Linked DNA regions of Homo sapiens: region 1 is linked to region 2. The links come from fine-mapping of genetic effects on gene expression. Tissue or cell type: whole blood. Region 2 holds a variant in brackets; the other region holds the start of a gene. All regions are shown on one strand. Distances are between the middles of the regions.

Evidence for each region. PIP is the estimated chance that this variant, and not a neighbour inherited with it, causes the effect.
Region 1: it holds the start of AVEN, and the variant in region 2 is the best candidate, but not a certain one, in a credible set for the expression of AVEN in whole blood (TOPMed, PIP 0.52).

Annotation. Positions count from the first base shown.
Region 1 is chr15:34,037,763-34,040,524 of GRCh38, reverse strand. It overlaps AVEN (apoptosis and caspase activation inhibitor), which reads left to right and starts at 1,321. Exons shown (of 6, transcript NM_020371.3): 1 at 1,321-1,745. The coding sequence starts at 1,479. The region is part of intron 1 of CHRM5 (cholinergic receptor muscarinic 5); the gene reads right to left. RefSeq lists silencers at 1,229-1,398, 1,579-1,788, 1,879-1,938, 2,289-2,348.
Region 2 is chr15:33,858,049-33,860,810 of GRCh38, reverse strand. RYR3 (ryanodine receptor 3) reads right to left here. Exons shown (of 104, transcript NM_001036.6): 100 at 1,080-1,236; 101 at 152-216. It also overlaps a transcript of AVEN not described here. Among named protein-coding and RNA genes, the nearest start is that of CHRM5, 110 kb to the left of the region's middle. RefSeq lists an enhancer at 1,291-2,490. The variant C/G (reference allele first, on the strand shown) is at 1,344.

The DNA of each region.
Region 1 (2,762 bases), 180 kb before region 2:
TATGTAGAATAGTGTTTGGTGCATATAAGTGCTCTACAAGTGTTACTATTTTTAAGACTGTTTCTCTGGAGTTGACAATCCTTCAATAGTTCCCCCTGTCTGGAAGGCGCCCCTACTCCCATTTACCAACCAGGCAAACTCCTACTCAACCATTAGGCTTTAGCTCAGGGGTCTATTTCTCATGAAGCCTTGGGTAACCCGTTTAAATATAATTTAACTTTTCTTCTTTGGACCTTGATCTTGAATCTCTCACTGCACTCAGCAACACGGTACTGTAATCATCTATTCACACGACTAGATTATCTTCCTTGTGGGCAGTGAGCTACTTGAGGGCAGGGGCAAGGTTTTTTTTTTGTTTTTGTTTTTAATTTCAGGACATAGCACTGTGCCTGATGCAGAGTAGGCAATTAGAAGCAATGAAAAGTATTAACTATGTATGGATATAGGAAAGAACCAGAAAGTACTGAGGGGGAAGAAAACACTTATTCTGCTAGGCTGACATTTTAGCCCTTGCTTTCATTATTTTCAGGTGGTTTCAGTCCCAAGTTAAAAACTGCTTTCATGCATCTGTGTAACCAACTGTTCCCCTTCCTGTTTTCTCCTTGGTTGAAAGAAGGGACTGGAGTGAGACCGCCTTAGAATGCCAGTTCCACCACTACCTAGTTATTCACTTTAGTCAAGTTTTTTTTAACCTTTCCAAGGCTGTTACCTCACTGCAGAATAAGGATGACAGTCATCCCTACCTCATAGAGCTGTTATGAGAATGAAATACTCATGTGCTCAATAAATGTCAGCTGTAGTAGTCATTTCTACAGAAATTCTGCTGAGGACTTTGACGCCCTTTCTAGCCATCTCCCAGTTTCGCACTGTTCTCTCTCCCACGTGCTGCAGTCCACCTCTCACCAGACACAAACTCTTGTCTTTACATCCACACCTCCTGAACCCTGACTTCGGTATAGTTTTAAAATGATACACATTCGTTGCTGAAAATTAGATTAAACGGAGGAAAAAAAATTAACTCACTTCAAATCTCAGCAGTTAACCACTAACATTTTAGTATGTATTTGTTTAGACCTTTTCTTATGCAAATACATACGTTTAAACTTTTTTTTTCCGAGAGTTCACATCATACAAATTTTATTTTATGACTCGTCCTTGCACTTAGCACGGTCTCTCCCCCAACCTATCTCTGATGCCTTGAGAATCCCCCCGCCCCGCTGCAGACCCCCACCACTTCCAGCTCCCAGCGGTCCGGCCTTCCCGCGGTCCCGGTTCCGGCCCCACCTGCGGGACGCCGGCCGCCCCGCCCCGCCCCGCTCCGCTGCGGCCGGCCTCGATCCCTAGCCCCGCACCCCGCGCCTCGCTGCTACCGGGCGCCTTTCGCTCGCGGCTCCTCCGTGCGGCCCGCTTCCGGTGGGGCCAGGGCGTCTCCGCCGCAGCTCGGCTCCCGCGCGCTCAGCACCGCCAGCGGCGGCCAGATGCAGGCGGAGCGAGGAGCTCGGGGAGGCCGTGGGCGGCGGCCAGGCCGCGGCCGGCCTGGCGGAGATCGCCACAGCGAGCGGCCCGGAGCCGCAGCGGCGGTAGCCAGAGGCGGCGGCGGAGGCGGCGGCGGGGACGGAGGCGGACGCCGGGGCCGTGGCCGTGGCCGGGGCTTCCGCGGCGCTCGCGGAGGCCGAGGAGGAGGAGGCGCCCCGCGAGGCAGCCGCCGGGAGCCGGGAGGCTGGGGCGCAGGGGCCAGCGCGCCGGTAAGAGGCGACGGCTGGTGGGGCTGGGACCGCGTGTAACTGGGGCAAGTGGGGCCGAGGCCGCCAGTCAAGAGCCGCAAGAGAGCGTGCCAGGCGCGCGCCAGACGGGCGGCGGCGCCGGCGCCTGCGCGGGACGGGCGGATGGTGGCGCGGGGGCGCGCCTGGTGGCGGGGGCGCGCCTGGGTATGCGCTTGGCCCTCGTGGCCTCCTGGCCGGGCTGGCGCGAGACAGTGGGGGTAGGAGGGCTTCCCAGCCTGCCCCAGGGTCCGGGTTAGGAACCCAGAGGCCAAGGCCGTGTGTCAGGGCTGCAAGTCTCGGCGGCCCGTGGGCCGGCTGGGCTGTCTGTACGAGTACCACTATGGGACGGAGGCGCGGCCACGACGTGGTCCCTCGGCAGCCTTTACGGGCACGCTCCTGTTATTAGGAGGGAAAGGATTTTTTGGTCTGTTTTGTTAACTGTCTGTGCAATGCCTAGTACACAGTAGGCGCATAATAAAAAGTTTGTTGAGTGAAAGAATGACCCCTACGACTGGACTCTAGTATTTGGGGGCGGGACCAGATGCATAGTTCTTTGTAATAGCGTAGTTCTCTTTTATTATGCCTGTATGTGTAGAAATCAGCGAGCACTGGGCTTTGTCGTTTTGAATTTTCAATTTATAAATGAGCAGTCAAGTTCTGAGTTTTAATAGCAATATCATCAGTCTTATTGACACATTCATAGAAGGAAGTTTTTGGAGATTGGAGCAGGGGATGATATATATGGGGGCAAAGCTAACCATATCTCAGCTAAAGGAGTTAGAGGACTGTCTTTTTATGAGTTGTTCTGTTACCTTAACATCTGTAGGACAAGACCATCTTTATATTCTGCATTCTTATGCACACTGATTTAAAAAATTCTTTTTTGCATGAGGCAAAATTTGCTCTTACTGAAGTATTTACAATATCTTGAGGGCATAGCAGATAAGATATCCCTAAAGAGAGTAGTTGTATACAGCAATACAGAGCTGGAAAAAAAAG
Region 2 (2,762 bases):
ATGGCAGGGTGCAGAGAACAGGGCATGGAAAACAAACTGCGTTCTTGCTTAGTACTGGCCCTAAGTAATAGTAAAACCTATTGTTTAAAAAATCTATTTGCTTCTGGGGATATTAAAATAGAGCTGGGATTAGTAGTTAGAGTAACATTACCTCCATATCTTCTCGTACTTGTTCCTGCTGGTCTCTTAGCTCTCCGAAAGCATCAATAATAAGACCTGGAATGTTAAATACAAAGACAAAGCAATCTGTGTAGTGGTTCAGGGGTAGAGGAATGATAAAGGAAGAAGCTACTTTGTTCTGTTAAAAAAAAAAAGTGAATTATCAAAGCAAAATTAGAAAAATAATACTCGTGTTTCTTTGTGTTACATCCTGGCTAACAATTTCTCATTGTTCCTCCTAACTCTACCTTTCTACACCATGCAGTGCTGTTAACTACTTGCTCCTCCCTGAAACTCTTTCCTTTCTACTTCTCCCTGGTTGGTCTCCTATTTTGCTTAGCTATTTGTGTTCAGTCTGTGTGATAGGCTCTCCCTCTTCTCCTAGCACCTCTGACACTGAGGTGGATCAGGGTTCCTCCTCAGTTACTTCACTTCTTAGCCCTCAACACCTGCATGTCTTACAGGTTCCTCCACTCAGCATGACTCAAGCTAAATTTATCATCTTTCTCCAATCTTGACAAGCTGTTGACTAAAATATCATTCTTTCCCTCCCCTCCCCTGCACTGTCCAGCTCCTCTGCTCCTACCCTACCTCCCTCTCTGGGAAGAAAATGAAGAGGACAAGACTAGCCACAGGAGAGATCTCAGAAGCAGAAGTGAGGAGTAAATAATTCAGAGTAGAGGAACAGAAGGAAGGGGTTCCTCTGTATGGATGAAGCTTCTTATAACTGTGCCTGGGTGTGTATTTGGCTTTATATATAGCCAAAGCCTCAGGTATAGTAGATGCTAAATTAGTTCTTGCTAAATTAACAAGTAAATGAATTCACACGCTTCTTCATAAACCAATTAAGTCATAGATGGAAGAAAGCAAAAAGAACTAGATTAAACCCTGTTCATACTCAACACAATTGGCAATCATACCTTGAATGATGGCCAGCAAGATGACAATGACGAAGAAGAAAAAGGTAATGTCAAAGACAATGCGATACATTTCATAAGGATCACCAGCAGGGTCTTCAATTTCATCACCAATGCCACCTCCTGCTCTCACTCCCACGTACATGTGGAAAAGGTAACACTAGAGAAGAAAAATAAGGGGGATTTAGGCAAAAGTCACAGTTCTGTTTTTAGCAAGATGCTCAGATCATTCATATGATTCGGTCAGATTGTGGCAGCCCTAAGCCA[C/G]GAGAGGGGAACTCTTCAGAGGTGCCAGTATTCATGCTGCTAGCTGCTGTCCACTGCACCCTCTGGACAGTTTGATATCTACAAAGATGGAAAGACTGTCGTTACATTTAGGCTTTTAAAAGGTATTTTTAGGCCCATTAAAGGTGTATATAAGTTAAAAGATCTTTAAGCCTTGATGAGTATGGCCTATGCCATATAATAATTTTTCCTCATTTAATTTTAAGAGTGTTAGCCTGGCCTTCAGGCTGTGCTATAAACTGCAAAAAGGTCCCCCCTCTTCTTCATCCACATTCCCCTTACACCTGGTAGGGCAGGGATTCCTGCAGCAGGAAGGTCAAAGGTAATGGACTTTTCTGCTCCTCCTGTTCTGCAGGTTTGAGCCAATCTAGGCACGGGCTCCCTGAGCAGGGCACCCTCTGTCTCTCCACCTGATGGGTTGATTAGACTCACAGAGAAAGGACCGTCTTACACCTGGAAAATCAAAAGCCAGGGGCAGCCTGAAGACACGCTGGTCATGCCAGTACTCTAGGGGCTAGGATTGCTGTCTCATGACGGTGCTTGGCCCGAGAAAGCACATGGAGAGTTTTTCGTCAAGAAGTGTTACCTCTTTTATGGAGATGCTCACAGACTGGGCATTTCACTGTCCCCTGTCCCTGAGACACAGATTCTTTTTCTGAAATCTGGTCAAAATAAACTGGCGATGTTGCTGCAGCCAAGCTGGCTTACTCTGGGCAGTGCCTTTTTTCTCACGAAGATCTGGCCTGACGGGACTCCCCCTCCCCACCTCCAACCTGATCCTGCTGCTGGCTGTCCGCAAAGAACCTCCGACTGGCTTGCTGAAATAAATCAAGTGCTTAATCCCGGTCCATGGGACTTTGCTCTCTGTTCTGAGAGACGATGATCAAAGCTCAACTTCCATGAAATTTAGACACTGGTTTCATTCATAATAATGTCTCATCTTGGCCAGGTGCAGTGGCTCACGCCTGTAATCCCAGCACTTTGGGAGGCAGAGGTGGGCAGATCACCTGAGGTCGGGAGTTTGAGACCAGCCTGACCAACATAGAGAAACCCCATCACTACTAAAAAAAATACAAAATTAGCCAGGTGTGGTGGTGCATGCCTGTAATCCCAGCTACTAGGGAGGCTGAGGCAGAAGAATCACTTGAACCTGAGAGGCGGAGGTTGCAATGAGCTGAGATGACGCCATTGCACTCCAGCCTGGGCGACAAAAGCAAAACTCCATCTCAAAAAAATAAAATAATGTCTCATCTTTACCCCGGAAATAGATGAATGATGACGCCACTGTGCAGGGTGCTTCCCTTTCCACGGGGCTTAGATGTGTGGTAATGAAAACTACCTCCATCACTTCTGTCTTCCCAGGACACTCTCCTGTTTGGAGAAGACATCTGTCTTCTACTT